3 separate regions of the Homo sapiens genome follow, and all the other regions are linked to region 3. The links come from fine-mapping of genetic effects on gene expression. A gene starts in region 3. Each other region holds a variant in brackets. All regions are shown on one strand. Distances are from middle to middle.

Evidence for each region. PIP is the estimated chance that this variant, and not a neighbour inherited with it, causes the effect.
Region 1: its variant is fine-mapped to the expression of GPR65 in monocytes after LPS (Quach 2016, PIP 0.95).
Region 2: its variant is fine-mapped to the expression of GPR65 in liver (GTEx, PIP above 0.99).

Annotation. Positions count from the first base shown.
Region 1 is chr14:87,979,235-87,986,320 of GRCh38, forward strand. GALC (galactosylceramidase) reads right to left here. Exons shown (of 17, transcript NM_000153.4): 5 at 5,160-5,299; 6 at 2,971-3,009. Among named protein-coding and RNA genes, the nearest start is that of GALC, 10 kb to the right of the region's middle. The variant T/TA (reference allele first, on the strand shown) is at 4,084.
Region 2 is chr14:87,377,998-87,385,328 of GRCh38, forward strand. The region is part of intron 9 of LINC02296 (long intergenic non-protein coding RNA 2296); the gene reads right to left. Among named protein-coding and RNA genes, the nearest start is that of LINC02296, 230 kb to the right of the region's middle. The variant T/C (reference allele first, on the strand shown) is at 4,040.
Region 3 is chr14:88,001,085-88,008,415 of GRCh38, forward strand. It overlaps GPR65 (G protein-coupled receptor 65), which reads left to right and starts at 4,051. Exons shown (of 2, transcript NM_003608.4): 1 at 4,051-4,138. RefSeq lists enhancers at 4,466-4,635, 5,436-5,495.

The DNA.
Region 1 (7,086 bases), 22 kb before region 3:
CTGGCTGGTCTCAAACTCCTGACCTCAGGTGATCCACCTGCCTCAGCCTCCCAAAGTGCTGGGATTACAGGCACGAGCCACTGAGCCTGGCCTGCAACAGGCATTTCAACAAACGGAACACAGATCCCAATAAAATCTTGCTGGAAAAAAATGGCAAACACAAAGTAAAAAGTTTTTGTATCCTGAGAGATTTTACTGCAAGAAAACTCAAGGTTCAAAAAAAAGGAAATGAAGTCTGAACTGTCTGAAACACTGAAAATATGTCTTAGAGCAACAATTAGTCTTTCAAACCAGGTTAGTTGAATTAGAATGCACTGGAGTCAGCAACAGACTCTTAATAGTAAAAAAGTTCAAATAACATAAAATATAGCCCTGTCTTATTTCATTAGTTTAAAAGAAAATGGAAACCGTAATACTTTTAATGTTTCCCTCAAATGAAATGACCACAAGAGAGACATGTGTACAATCACAAGAAAATAAAACTTAAGCTTTGAAATGTCAAATTTGGGTATTTAAAAAGTTCATCACCTTTCACTATGAAGATGCTGTAGCAACACCATCTACCTCATTACAGAGTTATCCAGTATACATGCACCAACTTGGCTTCTGCTCTGTCCCCTTACTGCTCTTATCAGACCTGTGCTCACAGCAGGCATGACTTTCCACTTACAATCCCTGTGCTCCAATCTTATTAATAGCTCCACTGCCCCACCTCCCCCACCCAATCTGCTCCCACCACCACACTCCCATCAGCATACTTCAACCTGGAATTGCCCTTGAGTACCTAGCTCTGGCTGCAATAGATCTTCTCAATCTATGCCTTCTCCACGCCTACAACTACAGATTAATTAAAATATGCCATTATTGGCTGGGCGCAGTGGCTCATGCCTGTAATCCCAGCACTTTGGGAGGCCGAGGCGGGCGGATCACAAGGTCAAGAATTCAAGACCAGCCTGGCCAAGATGGTGAATCCCCGTCTCTACTAAAAATACAAAAAAATTAGCCGGGCGTGGTGGTGGGCACCTGTAATCCCAGCTACTCAGGAGGCTGAGGCAGAGAATTGCTTAAATCCGGGAGGCAGAGGTTGCAGTGAGCCAAGATGGCGCCATTGCACTCCAGCCTGGGTGACAGAGAGAGACTCTGTCAAAAAAAAAAAAAAAGCCATTATTCCAGTGAATACATTAGCTTACTGATGGGGGTCAGTGCCCCCACTCTTCCTCCATTGTCTAATCCATCTTTCATGACTTGTTTTTCCCCCATATCCCTTTACCTCTCAATCTTCAGTTCTTTGCACATGATATGCCCCTGCCTTAGCAAAGTGGAGAGTTCCTATCCATCCGTTCTTGAAGATTCAAATTACACATCACCTCCTCTAAAAGACTTCCCTAATCAACCCAGGGAGAGGTGTCATCTCCTCTGTGCGCCTTTTAAGAACCCTGTAGGTGTATTATTCCATTATTTGACACATTCCAAATTATGACACATTTTAATTGTCTATATCTGACTTTATAACCACCCTCCCCAATACAAAAAATCCTTTTGGGCAGAAAACAGTATTCTCTATCCTTATATTATAACCATACACACAATGCCTGACAAACCAGTGTTGAGCAAATAAATGCTCTATGATTAACCGAATGAAGAGATGAAAGAAATGTATTGAACCTTATCTACTTAAGAACATAAAACATCCAATTCAAAGAAAATTTTTTTCTATAAACACGCATGTGCAAGTATCTTTTTTGTATAATGACTTCTTTTCCTCTGGGTAGATACCCAGTAGCAGGATTGATGGATTTGTGAAAATATGGAAATAGCCCAAAAACCCATCAATCAGTACGAGTGGATAAAGAAACTGTGGTGTATGTATACAATGGAGTACTACTCAGCCACAAAAAGGAATGCATTAATGGCATTTGCAGCAAGCTGGATGGGATTGGAGACTATTATTCTAAGTGAAGCAACTCAGGAATGGAAAACAAAACATCGTATGTTCTCACTCATAAGTGGGAGCTAAGTTACGAGGATGCAAAGGCATAAGAATGATACAATGGACTTTAGGGACTCGGGGAAAGGATGGGAAGGAGGTGAGGGATAAAAGACTACAAATTTGGTTCAGTGTATACTGCTCCAGTGATGGGTGCACCAAAATCTCACAAATAACCACTAAGGAACTTACTCATGTAACCAAATACCACCTATTCTCCAAAAACCTATGGAAATAAAAAAAAATTAATATAAAAATTTTTGAAAACTTGAAATAAAATACTGTCCCAAAATTATATTTCTTAGAGAAAAGATACATACAAGAAGACAAAAGGAAGTGAAAAGTAAACTAAAGATTAGCTCCACCTGAAAAGTGAAACTGCCATTTTTTTTCCAATGGCAGAAGTTATTATTCTGTTTTTCCTTTCCTGGAAAATAGCAATTACAGTAGTTACCTCATAGGTAAGGTTGTGAGAATTAAATGGAGATAAATAGGAAAAGTGGAACAAAAATAACACAATTGGCAGATGTTACTGCTACCTCTTTGCTAATCACAAAGAGAAACATGTACTATAACACACTCCAATAGAAAACAAGAATTAGAATATATGCCATAAGTTTTGACAAAAGACAAAGAAAAAAAGCTACATTTCTTGAAGTTCTAAAAATCTAAAATGATATAATTGTTTCATAAAATTTATCAGAATTCCAAAACTAATGAATTTTAAAATAGAAAAATTCAACACAACTCTTTAGACAAAGGTAATTCGGGGCTCACAAAGAATTACATATGCTTTAATATCAGGAATATAAACATTGTTAAGATTTTGCTTGAATTTTATGTCACAACCAGCAAAATAAATAACTGTAGTATAAAAAATACGGTATTTCCAACACAAATTTCCTACTATTTTCTGTGTTAGGAACCATAAGGAATTATTCACTAAAAAGTTAAAAACAAAAAGATACTAAAGTTGTACACACCTTAATATAATTGGCATTATATGACCTCTCATTCCAAATCTGCAAAACAAAAAGTCAAAAAAGTCTGAATTGAAAGTTACAAAATGTCAGAAAGCAGATTATCGTTACGATACCATTTCTCTCATCATCTTTCATATTATCTGATACGCCATTTTTTAACTTTATGGGATATCCTGCCATAGAATTTATAGATAGTTATAAGATAGCACAACTTTTTAAAAATTAAAATATTATTTTTAAAAACCTTAAAATATTTAGTGGGTATTTTTCAAAAAGTAATTTATTCCAAAGATTTTCAACAATGGAATATTCATTAATTCATTCAACACATACTGACAGTACAATGTGTGCCAGAAACTATACTAGGCATTGGAGAACTAATAGACAGGGAAACTGTTACAACAATTATGACAAGATCCCTGAAAGCCAAGTATTAATATGTATACTGTATAGAAGGCATATTTTTAAGCATACACAGAGAATCACAGTAATACACTAGTCACAAAAGCAACTCTGAATGAGGATGGATAAAAGGAACATATATACATCTATTAGGTTTAGAGTCATGAAGCATGGGGTTTTAGAATTGAAAGAACTTCCATAACTCCACAGTTGAGAAAACTGTTAATAACAAGAGACGATTCTAGAATCCAGGTGCAGGTCTTTTTACTCCAATGATACAGGAAAGAGTTTATCAATGAACCTCCTCATCATAGCATTTGTTATCATGAGTCTAAACAAGATGTGAATCACCCATTACTTGTGACTGTACCATAAGAGAAAGCTATTAGACCAAACCTACATTTAGTCTCACTACAGGTTATAAATGTCCTGACATTTAAGAAAGTTCTCCGGCCAGGCGTGGTGGCTCATTCCTGTAATCCCAGCACTTTGGGAGGCCGAGGCGGGCGGATCACGAGGTCAGGAGTTTGAGACCAGCCTGGCCAACATAGTGAAACCCCGTCTCTAATAAAAAGAAAAAAAAACTAGCTGGGTGTGGTGGCGGGTGCCTGTAATCCCAGCTACTTGAGGCAGGAGAATCACTTGAACCCAGGAGGCAGAGGTTGCAGTGAGCCAAGATCACAACACTGCACTCCAATCCGGGTGACAGTG[T/TA]AAAAAAAAAAGGAAAGTTCTCAAATATAAACTAATTTTTCAGTCATAATTTGGAAAAGGATAGCAAAAACTAGTATATTCTTTCTTCTGACTTCCTCCAGCCCTTGGCTCATCCTCATGCCCTGTATCATCATGTAGTATTACAGTTTATATGTTCCAGCATCTACTTCTCTTACTGAACACAAGAGCTTATTAATCTTAGTAGCCCTCAAATATTACAGTCACAGTTCCTGCAACACAGTAGGAACTCAATAATTGTTTGCTGATAATCTAAGTCATGATTGCATGAAAATGTTTAAGTATTAGTTTTAACTGATGGTATATTAATAAGCAAATGATTATGGAGACCCACTATGTGTGTGTTAAGGCCCTGTGGGGTACGATGCAGCCTGGGGCATGCCTCCACCCAGCCAAGAGACAAGCTGGACATGATATCATTTTTCATACTTTTCAAATCCTTAAAAGGTGTTAACTAACAGTTTGTGACAGGTGAACGCAGATTTCAGCCAGCCTGCCAAATCTGGCCCATCATCTGTAATTTTACAACTTGAGAGCTAAAAGTGTTTTTAGTTTTAAATAGTTACATTTTAAATGGCTATATATTTACCTCAAGATCCTCAATATTGCCTTTTGGCCCACAAACCCAAAACTATTTATGCTCTGGCCCTTTAATAAAAAGTTTGCCAATCTTTGGCTTAAGACAACAAGAGGATAAAATGAGACTAACCCCCCATAAGCTGTATAGGAAACACAACACTGTTGTAGGAACCAGAGAAAGCAGGGAAAGCTTTGAAGGAGAATTTGAGTTGGGTTGATACAAAAAAAAAAAAAAAAAACCCAGCTCAGAGGAAGGAGGTATACACTCAACACAGTTTTCAAAAGTGGGAACACTGGGATGGGCAAAGGGGAGCAATTAAAGGTCACAGGTACTTAGTTTGTGTTATTATCAGACACCATTAGAACAAATTAGCCTCATGGCATAAAATGGTTAGTCAAAAAGTACCACAGAATCAAATTATTTTCTAAATTACAAACAAATGTCCAAAACTGAATCATATTTTAAATATATTACTAACTCCAATATAATCAATGTCCAAATCATGGTAACGCTTGGCGCCCACAATCCAGGTCACGACATAATAGGCAGTCAGCTGAAGATTGACATAAGGCCAGTCGAAACCTTTTCCCAGCCATCCAGGGAATGACCATGGCAACCCTGCAGAGAGAAGGGAGGAGGCAAAGGTAGAGGAGGTATAACGGTGCTGGCGCTATTGAAAATAAAACAAATTTTTTTTAAGAAAAGCATTCAACTAGCAAAAAACCAATACAGATCTGACTAAAGGAAAGTTTATATACCATATAAAAATTATTGAAATCCTTTCCAATCTATAGACACTATAATTCCTTATTGATCCCTAGAGTCAGGTCCCATAATTTCAAATGTTCTTTCCAAGAAGAAGAAAAATAACAAATACAAACACCTCTCTCCAAGACCCTTACCAATAGAAAGAAATGTACCATATGTTTTAACTTAACATGTCCACTCACTGTTGGAATGTTCAATATTCAACTTCTGTTCTTTGAGGTCAAATCAAAGAATTCTAAAAGGCTTATGCCAAACTACTCTTGAGTTATGTATAACACAAATTTATCATTCAATTGTACATCTTCTTACAATTTAGGGTCCTTAAAATATTAATCAGTCAGGCAATCTAATTTAGCAAAACTAGTTTGTTCTTATATCACTATAAATGACAATGACTCCATAGAGAAATATACCCTTGTTAAGTGATACACATCAAATAAGTCCATATTCTTCCAATAATCCTGATTATGTTTAAGTAAAAAAATAAGAAGAGTAGAAAAGTACTTATTATAATTCTAAATTTAACTTGCTACTAATATATTAAAATAGGCTCAATAGTTAAGTTCCTCAGCAATAAATATATTACCAAACTAGTTCACCACTGAAAAAAATAAAAATCAAAATGACAAAATGCTTATTTTCTAAACTCAGGAGGAACACCCAAGTGTATTACATAAGAAATGTGACATTAAAGTAATAGAATTCTTGAAAACAATGAAATGCTAAATGCAATCTGAAGGCCTACCAAGTCTTTGTTAGGACATGGTTTAGCATGCCATATTTTCTACATTTAAATGAGGTCTGACCTTGGAAGCAGTCTAGTGGATATGTGCTGAATTCAGTGATGCTTTTACTGCTCACAGCATTTCTGGAATCTCTTACAAAAGCCCATTTATAAAGAACATACTTACTCCTAATTTCTTTTAACTTAGAAAATATTACTTTTCATTAACCTGATTGTTGAGAAAATTATTTTTTAAATAACTAGAAATCAGGTCTTTAAAATGAATCATTAATTTCATTTAACTTAGTTTGAATTTAAGCCTGTTTCAAAAAATCAAATTCATTTCAAATGATGAAAGTATCCCATCACTCTTGATGTTTGAAATACTTCACAAGCTCTGTACACATTCTCACAGAACTGTGAAATGTACATAGTCCCATTTAAGCAACTAGCCAATGATCCTCCCAATAGAACCTAAGCCCCACAGGTGCAGGAATTGGGGACGGGATTGGCTTCCTGAGTCCCAGAACAGTAACCAGCACATTATTGAAGTTCAAAAACTAACTAATAAACAAAAAACACTTTTGTATGTACCTTTTCTAAAAATAGGGTTCACTACTACATGCAATATACAATTTTGTAACTAGTTAGGTGTACTACTGCATGTAATATACATTTTTGTGAACAGTGTTACCCTTTTATAAATACTGATGACAGATCTTGTGAAGGAAAGTAGTTTAGCATCATAGGAAACATGGAATTAGGTGCTAACACCGATTTTGCCATTTACTAACTGTCTATGACCTTAGGTCAGTGGCATAATCTTCCTAAGCTTCTACTGCTTCTTCCTGGAAAATGGAAAGAGTCATGCCTTACTCCACAGGTATTATAAGGATTCAACATAATATACAAG
Region 2 (7,331 bases), 620 kb before region 3:
CAACCTTTCTCAAAGTGTCCAAATCATTCCAAAAAGTCAATGCCAATTTTATCTATTTCATATTAAGATTCGTTTATCCTTGGTTTGTTAATCTTCACCATGTGAAAGTTGTCTGGTTTTAGTTCAATGTATTATTTCTGCTTCTGCCTCCACCACCATCTCAATTTCCTTGGTGATTTGTGTGTGTAAGAGAGAGACAGAGGGAGTTTGCATATTAGCACTTCATTAGGTTAGAAAGTCGAATGCCTCTGGTCTTTCTCTAATGGATGGCATTTAAGATACATTAATACCTTAAATAGTCCTCCTACTTTGTTGGGCCAGCTAATTTTATTATTATTATTATTATTATTATTATTATTATTATTATTAGAGACAGAGTCTTGCTCTGTCATCCAGTCTGGAGTGCAGTGGCGTGATCTCAGGTCACTGCAACCTCCGCCTCCTAGGTTCAAGAGATTCTCCTGCCTCAGTCTCTTGAGTAGCTAGAACTACAGGTGTGCACCACCATACCTGGCTAATTTTTGTATTTTTAGTAGAGACGGGGTTTCACTATGTTGATCAGGCTGGTCTCTAACTCCTGACCTCAGGCGATCCACCTGCTTCAGCCTCCCAAACTCCTGGGATTACAAGTGTGAGCTACCATGCCCAGCCTAATTTTATAATTAAAAGATGAATTCCTCAACATGTCTCACCTATGGCTTGGAAAAATTCAATTGAGTCATATCAGCTGGAGACAAAATCACCTTTGAAATTTGTTGGCAACTCCATCAGCCTTTGTGACCATAAAGAATTTTGTTTCTGGACATGTCTCGTTAGTGTTCTTTGGCGGCTGCTATGGACATAACTACTCGTGGCAGAATAGTGGCATTCCTTTGATGGCCTCTCATTTAGGTCCCTAATACAGGGTTGAAACATGTTGCCCATTTCCTGTGAAATTCAGGAGCCAAGTGTTTTCTTAATTTTCCTTAATAGGCCATTCAACTTTTCCACTATGAGGGCTACTTCATGTAACTGTGAATGACTCATTGACTATCCATGCTACTTGCCCATTCGGCATAATTTTTGCCCTGCCTTGAGTTTTCATCTCTGAATTCCAGTGTCAGAGGTTCCATATCTTGCACACAGTTTTTCACACTCTTGATTTTACTCTGGCCAGTCACAGCTGAGGAAAATATGCAGTTTCCCTCTCTTACTGTAACTCCCTCACAATGAGAAAACAGATTTTGCTGCTTTTAAAGGTACTGTATAATCCAATGGTTCCCTGAAATCAGTCCTCTGGGAATTTGGCCTTCAGTTTTATTTAAAAATCTCAGTAAATTATCACATGGGACTCTTCACTACTTCATTTAAAAAAAATTTCACATTCACAAATGGAAGTCCTTTTCTTGACAATTGGAGATGGTGCATATTTTATGCCGGAAAGACCAGATATCTCTTTGTTCTCTTCTTGACATGCCTGTGAAAGGGTCTTAGGATAGCACTATCTCCAGTTGTCCCAGGCAATTTTAATTAGATTTTAGGCCTCCAGAAATGCACTCTCTGCATTTGTTCTTTTGGAAGTCTCTCTTTTACTGTTTTGACAGATCATACACCCAAATTGGTATTGATGAATCACTTAGTGCTTTCTTTAGTTCTTTCTCCAAAACTGTTTTTCTATTACTTAGAAACTATTTCCAATTATTGAACATATAGACAGTCATTATCTAAAACCTGGAAAAGTATGAGCTTCTGAGAAATCGGATCCCTGTGCTTAATACAGCCATCCAGATTTCCTGAAATTCAAGATACTGTACTAATCGGCCTAGTTCTTGCTTTACTTAGAACTGTCCAGTATTAGGGTTAAAAGCACAGGCTTTGCCATTAACCTCCTTACTGTTGTAAGGACACAGCTTCTGTAGCCATAGTTTTTGTGTTCTCTATGTAAATCTCTAAATTAACAAGAAGTTTTTCTTAAAGTTTTATTTTACTGGTGTAAAGTACACTTTTTAAATAACAGAAGGCCCAGCAGTTCACTAGCAGTATCTTAGTATAATGTACACATTTGCATGATTTGGCCCCTTCATGAAGGTACCAATTCTATTTTAATTGATTGAGACAAACTGAACAACCTCTTTAAACAATCCAGAGTGTGAACAACCCTATATTGCTGTTGGAAGTTCTATTTATATGATCGTAGGTACATGTTCTATTAGGCCTCAGTTACAGAACGTCATCAATAGGGCTACATAAATGTCCTGGAAGATCATAATGAGCCCTACAACTTATCTACACAATTTGATTGTTGCTGTAACCTTGATTATCCAGGAAAAGGTACATTGTGTTTTTCTGCAAAGTGAAAGAAAATTATCTCTTATCAGTGTTCTGGTGAAAAACATAATAGAGCTAGAATTCAGCTTCTGGGAACAGCAGATTATTTAATTTGGCCAAACTTTTTACTGAGATTAAGTAGAAAATCTAGAAATAAATAAAAATAAAATTAAAAAATATAAATATGTAATATAGGTATATGTAAGTACACATATATATCAAGTCTCAGATTATATCTATAATGTTTTATATTAAGTGCATTCAATCAAAAATAACTGGACATACAAGGAAATGCAAACACAAGACAAAGTGAGCAGAATATATATGCAGAAATACTAGCAAAAGAGATAGTAGTGTTTTAATTATGAGCTTTATATTTCTTTTTATGTAAATATTTAAGTTCCTAATTTGTATCATGCTTCTGTATATATAATATTTTTGAAGTAACAATATTATTTTTACTTCCACTATGATTACTAAAGATATTTTAAGCTTTCTTTTTGGCTCTTTTTTCCTTAGAATATGTCCTACTTTGTATATGCAATCTTTCCATAAAGTCACTCACAATAGTCTCTCTCTCTGCCACTCCTAGTATGAGACTTATGAAGACAATTCTTCAAAAACACTCTGAATGGACTTGCAGTTGTTAAGTTTTCTAGAAAATCTGCAGAAACAATTCAGTCATTCAGCAGAGAACTCTTTGCAAATAAAAAGACAAAACTCTGGGTTAACAAATATTGAGGGAAATAGAATTGGCCATGGTTTGTATGACATATAGTCTCATATAAAACACAATCAAGGGAATCATATGGGGCTTCTATTACAAGATGAGATTTGTGTGTGATCAGTTTCCCATTAATATTATTTCAGAAAGAATCACTTTAAAAGTCCAAGTATCTTATATGGAAAATACGTCTGCTTAGTTCAAATAATGCCAGGTGCTGACATTTTCAGCAGTCTCAATCCCAGAAAACTAGTTAATTCTTGAAAGATACAATAATAAATATGTATTAAATTTACCTTCCTTGACTGAGTAAGCCACAGCAGTTAAATACAACCTCATGACTCTCAAAAACCTTCAAAAATTTTCCAAGTGCTAAAACAGCAAGATTCTAAATGATGCCCAAATCAATTTGTGATATTTCAAAAATTACAATAAACTGTATCTGTTCATGGAAAGAATCCTCTATTTCTGATTGAACAACCTACTCTTGACACAATTAGGTTCATTTTTTACATTGCATTTAAGTTTTAGAAAAAGATGTTTTCTTCTATTTGAGTTTTATTTATTTTATAATTATATAAAACATTTACATTGTACTGTTTGGCCCAGTCCTTTCCTTACTTAGGTCTTTTCAATCTTATGGTTAAAAGCATGATCCAGCTGGGTGCAGTGGCTCAGACTGTAAATCCCAGCACTTTGAGAGGCCAAGGTGGGAAGATCGCTTGAGTCCAGGAGTTTGAGACCAGCCTGGACAACATAGAGTAGACCTCATCTCTACAAAAAAAAAAATTAGCTGGGCATGGTAGTACATGCAAAGAAATTGCATTATTTTATGTGCCCACCAGCAATGATAGTTCCAATTGTTCCATATCCCTACCAATATTTGGTACTGCTAGTCTTTTTAATTTTGGCCATGCAAATTTGTGTGTAATAGTACTTTACAGCGGCTTAAACTTATATTTCTCTGATGAATAATGACGTAAAAAATCTCATGTGCTTGTTGAAGAA[T/C]CTTACATGTCATTCTATTAAGAGTTTACTCATACATTTTGCTCATTTTTAACATGCTTGAAAGAATTTAAAGTTGCTTTAAGGTAAATCTTCAAATCAGGCAAAGTCTTTCAATTTTGTAGGTCTTTCAAAAATTGTTTTCGCTAATCTAGGTTCTTTGTATTTCCACATAAAATTTAGAAATAGTTTGTTAATTTCTACCAAAAAAAGCCTATTAGGATTTTGATTGATTTTTAGTTAATTGAGAAAAATTGACAACCATATTTAGTCTTCCAATTCATACATATGGTAAATATTTTCATTTAAATCTTCTTTAATGTCTCACAGCAAAGTTTTGTAGTTTGCAGTGTACATGTTTTGCATATAATTTGTTAAACTTATCCATAAGTATCTATTCCTTTTTATGTTTTAAGAGGTTTTTATTCCTATTTATAAGCCACAAGGTGTTAGTCACATGTTTGAAGAAACATTTCCACCACTTTCCCTTTAGTCTCCTGCACAATCATCTGGGTAATCAATTTATTTTTCTCCTAATTCAAAAGGTAGGTTTTTGCCCCCAAGCTATTCATTCCAGTTACACGTTCAAAGTTATGGTTATACCATTTCAAATACTCTAATTGGCTTCCTATCTTTTTCCAGTTTAACTTTAGTTTTTACTATATAAATACTACTGTTTTACCAAAATATCAGATTCTACTTTTTCTACTCTTTTAAACAACTTTAAAGAACTCTACATTTACCAGAAAAGTCATCCCATGGGTCTCAGTACCACTTAATGCTATTTTTGACTATTGACAATTTGAATGTCAGTGAATCTTTACGCTATTGTATGGGTGATTTTCTGGATTATGCATGACTAGTTTGGAGCACTCCAGTTCTCTGTGTAAAATTCATTGAATCGCTAGGTTCTGGGAGCCTCCATTGTGCCCTGTGGTACCCTGTGCCAATGTTGGCTCTGTTTCTCTGACTTAGTATGGCTGGTAGGGGTTAGTAAGTTTATGTAATAACTGCTATCTGCTGAGGCATCCTGTTTGAGCAATTTTCTCCTGAAATCTAGGATAACTTTCACTATATCACAATAATATTATTTCACATAATAATTTCCTATTATTTTTCAGGACCTCATTTTCTGCTAATTCTTCTCAACTCTGTCAATGTATTGCCTTATTTTTGTTATTGTTGTTGTTGTTGTTGTTGTTCTTGTTGAATGGCTAAGGGTAATCAAATCTTCCCAAGAATTCTAACGGCATGGCTTCTATTACAATGTAGGTGGTTTCTGTACTGCCTAATATGTTAACTCTCATCTCTATGTGAAATGCTTCTGGAACCATTGTAAGCATAATTTCCTTCATCAGAAATGATTTCCCAGGGATTCTGCCACTACTCAAGTTTTAAGAAAGTTTTCTGCCTCTTGATAAGTCCCTCCCATCCTGGCTTTCTTCTTTTAACCTTTATTTGACTTCTACAATATTTTTTCCAACCCTTTGCCATTACACAGTGGTTCTAGCTATGGGTAAGTCTTTTTGGCCTGCAAGCAAGTATATACTTCAGTAGTGGAGGCATCTCCTTCTTTGGTAAGCTCTATAAGTACATTTTCTCATTCTTGATGAGTCTAATTGATGTTAAAATTTATTATCATTTTTTATCTATATTCTGAGAAATGAGCTCTTCTCTTTCTTTTCCTTTTCTCTTCCTTTCTTTGCTTTTATTCTTTTCTTTTCTTTTTGTTCCTAACTGTATTCTTTCCATGTGGTTTGTACCTGTAGTCTGGTGCAAGACTTTTCTCCCTCACTCGGCAGTTTCACCTCTCTGTATCATGTGGCATGTCCTGATTAATTTCTGTATTTTCCATAGGCAGCATTTTTTTGGATGGTTGACACTGTTAAAATCCTTAGGTAATGAATCAACTGGTTGGGGCTTAAAAGGATATCATCCTTCTAGCTTCTTATCACCTGGGTATTTAGAGAGTTATTTTCTATTCTTAACTATTTTCCCCCTTTCTATATTTGAAAACCCAGTTCTACTCTTTTTCTATCCTTTTGTCTCACATTTTAAACAAAGATGTACCTTCAGCAGCCAAGGTAATCAATATCCCCTAAATGTCAGAACAACTTGCTACTTGCCACTTTTCTTTTAACTTGTCTACCATTGAGTATGACAGAATCGTTTTTTAATATCCATTTAATAATCATTTTTCCTTTATGTAACACATGAATTTAGACAGAGATATGGTGACAAGACCACAGGGCCTCTGTGAGGCTCAATGTGCAGTCCTTCTCCCCAAAGACTCAAATTTAAATAGTCTGGAGGATGCCTAACCATTACTATGTTTTAAAGTCCCACAATGTTTTTAGCCATAAGTCTGGATGGAGGAAATTCATAATTGCAGAGCTCTGTAGATGGTAAGTCTGCTGCTGACTAGGACATATCTCTGCTAGGAGCACAGCAATGTTTCTAGCCAAGCACCAAAACAAACACACCTTATTTCTATAATGACTCCCATACTGATAAACAAACCCCTCGGTGTGGAGCTTGATAACAATATTTAAAGAGTTTAATTGACCTCCCTAGCATGTTTTTCTTTTAGTGTGCTTTGGGTTCTCAAACACGAATGGGCTTAAGACACAGTTTAAACTTTATAACATATGTATTCACTACACTGTTTACTCTCCAGTATTTTTAAAGTAAATGACTACCCAAGTGATATAACAAGATTCAGATTAAAATGATGAGAAACACCACTCCCCCATCTTGGAGAAAAACAAAGAGGTTCCCTAAGATAATTGAATAATTGTTTTTTCTTCATGTGTAATGATTAAAAAATGGGTACTTCAATGCTTAGTCCCTATCAAAATCTGTTGCTTCTGTATCTTTCATAAACTAGAGTGCTGCACAGTTGGTTGAACATAATTTTTGTCAAGGCTGTCTTTTTCAAGTATCTTTATCTCTGCTTTTATATTAATGCAGTGTTTTTAAACATCTGCACCAGTGTCTTTTCTTAAAATACTTTTCTATAATTGAATTTAAAACACACACATCAGAGATTTATAGTTTTCAAAAGCCTTTACTGAGAGGTCATTTCAGGTGATAAAAGTTTTAAGAAAAAACCACAGGTACTAGAAATAATGTATTACTTCATACAAAATGTCATTTAGAATGATGGCCTCTGCCCTTTATCCAAGGCAATACATTAAAAAAGGTAAGTTTGAACTTCCAGAATAAGTTTTTAAAAAGCTTAATATTTTATACTTCTGATTCAAGTATGTAGGAACACTTAAATTATATCTAATAG
Region 3 (7,331 bases):
ATGTATTGAGATGATCAAATGGTTTCTGTCCTTCATTCTGTTAAAGTGATGTATGGTGAAAGATCCTGTTAATGTGCTATTGTATTCAGTTTGCTAGTATTTTGTTGAGGATTTCTGTATCTTATGTTCATCAGGACATTCGCGTGTAACTTTTTATCTTGTAGTGTTCTTGTCTGGCTTTGCTATCTAGGTAATGCTGGCCTCATAAAATAAATTGAGAAGTATTCCCACTTCTCCAAATATTTTGGAAGAGTTTGAGAAGGATTGGTATGGCTTCTTTAAATGTTTGGTAGAATTCAGCAGTGACGACTTCCTGGGCTTTTCTTCGGTGGTAGAATTTTTATTACTAATCAGATTTCCTTACTTTTTATTACTCTGTTTAGACTTTCTGTTTTTTTTTTCATGTTTCAGTCTTGGTAAGTTGTATGTGCCTAGGAACTTCTCCGTTTCTTCTAGGCTATCAAATTTCCTCTTCCTATAAGGACAGCAGTCAGATTGGATTAGGGCCTATCCTTGGGGCTTTATTTTAATTTAATCACCTCTTTAAAGGCTCTATATCCAAATGCAGCCACATTCTGAAGTATTGAGGATTAGGGCTTCAGCATATGAATTTTGGGAAAGGACACAGTTCAGTTCATAACACCAGCTAAGATTTAGGGACTTTTCATGTTGCCAGGACTGGAAGGTGGCTTGACCCTTGGTTCTCAGAACTGCCCTCTATCAATGCTGGCATCCCCTGAGACACCCCCTTTCCCTTCTGGTCTTTGGTAGTTAGCCCAGGTAGTATTAACCTGAGTTGTCCCTCATCCGTGACACAAAGTGCCACACTGGGCCACTGAAAGTGCTGTGAGATGGGCTGAGGCTTCCCATCACTTCTTTGTGCCCCTCATTCTACTCCACCTGTGCTATACGGGCACAGAGGGACTTGATGAGTGTCTTAGTTTGTTTTGTGTTGCTATAAAATAATACGTGAGACTGGATAATTTATAAAGAAAAGAGGTTTATTTAGCTCATGATTCTGTAGGCCAAGAAATTCAAGGATGTGGTCCCAGCTTCTGGCAAGGGATTTCATGCTGCATCACAGCATGGCAAAGAAAGTCCAAAGGAAAGTGGACACATGCAAAGAGGGCCGGAGAGGTATCCAGGCTCTTATAATAGCCCACTCTCTCGAGAACTAATCCATTCCTGGGAGAACTAATCCAGAAAGAGAACTCGCTTACTACCTCAGAACAGCACCAAGCCATTAAGGAGGGATCTACCCCCATTGCCCAAACGTCTCCCACTGGGCCCCACTTCCCACTACTGCCACACTGGGAATCAAATCAACACCAGCTTTATAAAGACAAACAAACCATACCCAACTATGACAGTGAGGTCTCTCAGGTACATACTCCTGAGTCTCTCCTTGGAAATGAGGCACAGGTTCACTCTCCTCCCCAGATCACACAACTCATCTAGGGTGTTTGTCACCCACCCCTACCTCAGGGCTTGCTTGGAAGTGAGTACAGCAATCAGGATGCAGGGCCCCTTTCTCAAGCACTGACCACATCTAACTCTTGAACATACTTCCTCTCTCACAACGTTAAACCCAACCCCCGCCAAGCAGGACAATCTTTTTCAGTTTTGGGGGCTGGGAAGCTTTACTTTATTTCAGCACATATTCTCCCAAGCATAGTGTCTGTGCCTCAGTCTTTTCCAAGGCCTTGAATTTTTGAAAGTCAAAACTCACATTGTCTTCTTTTTTTCCCCCCCGCTTGTGCCAGAAATTTCCTTGAGGCAATAAATGCAAAATGGCTCACTGATTGTGTAAGGGTAGGGCTAGAGTGAAAAGAAATGTGGCTGGGAAAATATAGCATTATTTCAAAATCTTACCCTGCCATATTTAGTTGCCGCTTTAGCTAGTGAAATTACACCTAGCAGATAGTGTGGCCTCACAAAGGACCCCTTCATCAGTAGAACACACTCTTGCACTGTCTGCCCAATGGAGAAGTTGGAACCAGGTAGATCCACAATCTCCTCCCCATTACCCCATGAGTAGCCCAACTGGCCAGTGTTGGGTCCCCAGATTGTGACCACAGAAAACCAAATAATTGACTGGTCAGAAATGCCAACCCCGTTAAGGCAGTGTTCTGAATAACTACTAATTGTCTTTATCTCATTGTTATGTTGTTAAAATGTCACAGTGACTCAATGATTTAAAATTTCTAACCGTTCATTATAAAAGATAGCCCTATAGTTGAAAATACAGTATTGCCATATTTTCCATATTAAGAAGCAAATTTCTTAAAAGCTGGTAAATTTCTTATTGTGTAGAGTTGGCAAGGTTTTAGCATAGGTCAGCTCCAGCTTTTTCTCCTCTTTAATCAGAAGTGAAAGTTTGTGTTTCTTATGTTTCTTAATGATAATCTTTTTCTTTTGAAAAGCAAAATACATGAATATTAGATATGGACATGAAAATACCCTTTCCCTAAAAGCAGAAGTATAGTCTATTCAGATAAAGTAAGAGATCATCAGAGTAATGAAATACCTACGTAACAATGCACTTGTACCCCGAACTTAAAAAAAGATATATCATGTATAGAAACCACAGATAAGCAGATGTACGAAACCAAGCAAAAATGAGAACTTTGAATTACAGTCACAAGTAAACTGAAATCGTTACTTTTCATTTTTGTAAAACTTCAAGACATTTATTGTTAATTTTTTACTTTATACTTAATTTTTATTATTTCAGTAACAATATATTGATTTATAATTTACTATATGCTAAATTACTTTATAAACTATCCTGTGCTTTATAAATGTAAGGTATTAGTTTTATTATTCTCAAAGAAAGACCTACAACGGAAGTATTGAAAATCTTTACATTCCTGATATACCCTGATCAACTTCAATATGGAAAGCCTTGCTTATATACAGGCTAATCTTTTCTATCTCTGGGTAGGGAGAAAAAAACAACAAAAAAAAAACACCAGCAACAACCCTTAATGTCCTTTAACAAACACAGATTCAAAATGTCCTGATTACATCTTTAAAATTAAGTCAAATGTTTTCATCCCAAATAAATTCTGTTCTTTCAAATAATATTTTCCCTTCATTTCTAATAAAAGTTTATGAGGGCAAGATTCAAAAGTGATATTTCTGACTTTTTTATATATCAATAGTAAGAAAGTTATAGGAGCTAATTTCACTTCATATTAAACCACTTATAGATTTGGCATTAACTTTAACTTGCTAAAGTACAAGAGTTTTTATAATAACAATGTAAGTCTTAAATAAAATTTTCAAGTTTCATAAAATTATTTGTCTCAGCTAGTTAATTCAACTGGTTTTTAGCCATCTCTGTTTCCAAGAGGAGAGAATCAAAGGAGAAAATAGTTCTACAATCAAATACTATATATCTAATCCCATTAGTCTCTCAAAAAAAAAAAGAAAAGAAAGACGGTATGAGGTTGGCTACCTTAACCCCTGCCTTAAGCAGCACAATATCCATCATTAAACCCCTCAGCCTCAATTCTCCCTTTTCTGTTTTTGTCCCAGGAACTTTATCACCCTGAATCTACCTACAATATCCTCCCCTATCTCACACATCCAAATGGTTCATTCTATTTTATCTGTACCCCTCTTGAAGTACTTCTTCATTTTGCCATTGCATTACAATCATTATTAAACATGTCTTTCTCCTTTACTAGGTAAAAAAAGCTGCTTTTGGTTGATAGCCAGTTCGTATACATCTCCCCGCACACTGCTGGCATGATGAGTGAATGAATGAATGAATGAATGAATGAACAAAGAAATAAATAAAATATTTAACATATATTCCATTAAGTAAAGGGCATATAATATAATATCAGTACATACTTGTAATTAAGATGCAATGAGACAAGTGAGTTATAAAAATTACAGTACAGTAAACAATAAATAAAAACATCTTTAAAAGTATTTAAGAGACTTTTTTTGTTCAAACTTGGATAACGCACACCCTTCTCATTGAGATGCTGCTTCCTCATTGGTTTGTGCTGAAATATGAGTGCAATTTCCTGTCCCCTCAGCAGTGTTGGTTTCTCTTCTTGACTTGATGCAGGCACAGATTTATCAAGCTCCTCAGTCAACAAACACATCACCGGAAGAAATATGGGTAAGTATAAGATTAAAAAATAAAATAATATTTTAAAGTAGATAACATGCTTTGGCATAATTGTCAGTGATGTTCGCAACATTCTTCCTGGTTTAGGCTGTATAAATGTGGTAATGCAAAGCATGATAAGAGAGAAAGAAATGAGGAAGACACATGGTTTCCTCTACTTTGAGCAGTGGTAAAGGGCCAAACTTTAAATTTAGAACTAATTAGGCAAAACCATAGATATAGAAAAAGGGGGTTGTTCATACTTTATTTTCTTTTCAGGAAACAGTGCTTTGGCAAACTTCATTCAGTATTAGGAAGAAGCCTACCAGCCCCTGGCTTTAGAGCTATCTGGCACCAATCCCTCATCTGTACAATGGTCCAGTAAATACTTTTTATATCCATCAGAAAAAAATGTGATATTAGGAAAGAATATTTCCAGTATTAATAAATGTCAAGTAATAATTATTAGTTAATAAGTGACTACCACAGTGCCTGAAATATATAGTAGAGTCTTAATAAGTAACTATTAAACTGATAGATGAAAGCAAGCATTTTCTATAACACTGTAGGAAAATATTGTACTTTTGGTCATCGTCATCAATGATTTGTACTATTTTTAGATCTGTTCAAGAATAGATATACTTTAATATACTGTAGATTGTCTTTTTTGACATCTGGTAAAAATTAAAAAATTAAAAACTCACCAAAATTTCTCAGTGCTTGTTCTAAAAACAATTTTCTCAAAATTTGATTAAAGGAGGCAAAATAATATCTGAAAAGATATGTGAATACTGTAATAGGAATTATATACAGTATTCCACTAAAATCTCAGATCCACCCAAATTAAATGAACAACTATTATCTGCAGAGCCTAGTATTATACGTGAAGTGTTACCATATAAATTACACTCTGAGCACCTCCAGCTTTTCTGCTATGCTGTGGCTAGATGACTAAAGATGATTTCTTTTCAGAAAATGTAGGGGACAGCACAAAGATTGGTGCAGACTACCAATGTCATTAAAACAATATTACCAGCTAACGTACAGTGAATGCCTCCCATGTGCTAGGAACTTTGCTTCATATGTCGTTTCATTTAACCCTCACAACAATCTTAGAAACTGGGTACTAACTTACACATGTGAAAACTGGAACTTAGAGAGGTGAAGAAACACCAATGGGCCCAGAGTGCTGTTGAGAGGCATTCGAATTGTCTCCAGAGCCCACGCTCTTAACCACAAGCCTGTACTGCCTCTGCGTCACTACAAAGAAGAGGGCCTCTGCTTCATCAACCCATCCTGTCTTGTGGTTAAGTCAAGGCAGGAAATGCTTTTACAGCTAGAGAAATGTATTCCATTGAAAACTTTATAAACCTTTCTAAAAATCATTTTTTCATTTAATCTGTCATACCATTTTTAAAGAAAATGATGACTATCTATTGAGTAACACGGACAAAGGAGGAAGAGGCACATGCTGCCCATTACCCGACTTTCTCGGTCCTGGTCTTAAGGGGAGGATGTTTTCATGGTTCAGGTGTTCTTCCCAAGACACATGAGCCTGGTGTTGGACGTGTTGTGTGTGCATCAGAGTCCCATCCGCGGGGGCTGATTCAATCTTCCTGCATCGCAGACATTACCCTAGTGTCCTTTTCCTACTTCAGTTATATCCTTTAGAAGTTTCTTTAGTGGGGATTTTGGATGTAAATGTTCTGAGTGGTAGTTTACCTGAAAATGTCCTAATTCTTGCTCTGGTCCTTGAAATTTAGTTCTGTTGAGTATATAATTATAGGATGACATATATTTTCTTAGCAATTTGGAACTTTTAATCTTCTGCTGTCTGTTATCGCTGTTGAGAAGTCTTTTGTCCGTCTAAATTCCATCCTTCATAGGTAGTCCATCTTTCCTCTCTGGCTCTTTTTTCCTTAGTCTTTGGTGAACTGCAATTTTATTGCAATGTGTCTAAGTATAGGTTTCCATTTTTGTGTTTTTAATCCTATTTGGGATTTTCTAAGCTTCATAAATCTGCAGATTTCATGAGGATTGAAGATGCATGAGGATTCTTCATCCATCCTCAAGATTCCTTCATCAGTTCTAGAAAGCTCATCATCTTTGTGAATATTGCCTTTTCAACATTCTCTCTTTTCGATCTTTATGGAATTCCAATTATGTATATGCCACCCTTTTCACCTTTTCTCCATATCTCTTATATTTTCCCATGTCCTTAACATGCTGATAATTTTGTGTTATTTCTTTATCTCTATCTTGCAATATACAAATTTTCTCTTCAGCTGGATCTAATCAGTTGGTTACTCCCTGTGTTTATTTTTAAATTTAAATTATTATTATTTTTATTTTTAGAAAGTCTTTTTCAATCTTTCTAAAAATATGGCTTGTCATTTTTTAATCTCTTCCTCCTTACTCATGTGTTTAAATCCCTTCTTTTGTTTCTTTAAACATATTAAACATATTTTGTGTTTTTTATATATATATATATAAATTTTATCTCTAAAGTTTTGTGGATCTGGTTTACTTTGTTGTTTCTGCTCAATCTGACACGTAGTTGCTTATTATTCTCTCTGTGTGTATGTGTGTGTGTGTGTGTGTGTGTGTGTGTGAATAAGGTCATATTTGTTAGAACTCTATCTGTAGGATTCTTTGAGGCCTGAGTTAAAGAGGACTTGTTCAAGGGGGGATCTGTGTCAACTTCTTCCAGGAGCCTAGAATTTATTTTTTCATATATAGTTAACCTTTATTTTTGGTGAAGTTATTTTCATAATTAGGTAAATTATTTATTTATTGTTTTCTCTCAATTACATTTTATGTATGAGGATAGAAATAAGATCAGATTTCTTAAAAAGGCATATATGTTCCATCTGTGGGTAAAACAGATGTTTGTTTGTCAAGATGCTCTACATGCCATCTCACACAGCCTTTTGATTCCACTTTTTAATGTTTCCATTGCAATACAATACACATGCAGCAAAATGCACATATCCTAAGTGTACAGCTTGATGCATTTCTACAAACTGAGCATGCTCATGGAACCAGCCACCCCTACCAAGAGATAGAACATTGCCAAATCTCAGAAGTCCTCCTCATGCCCTCTTCCAACAGTACTCAGCCTTTCCCCAGAGGTAGCCACTACCCAGACTCCTAACATCATAGATTAACTTTGCCTGGTTTGTATCAGATAATACATACTCTTTTG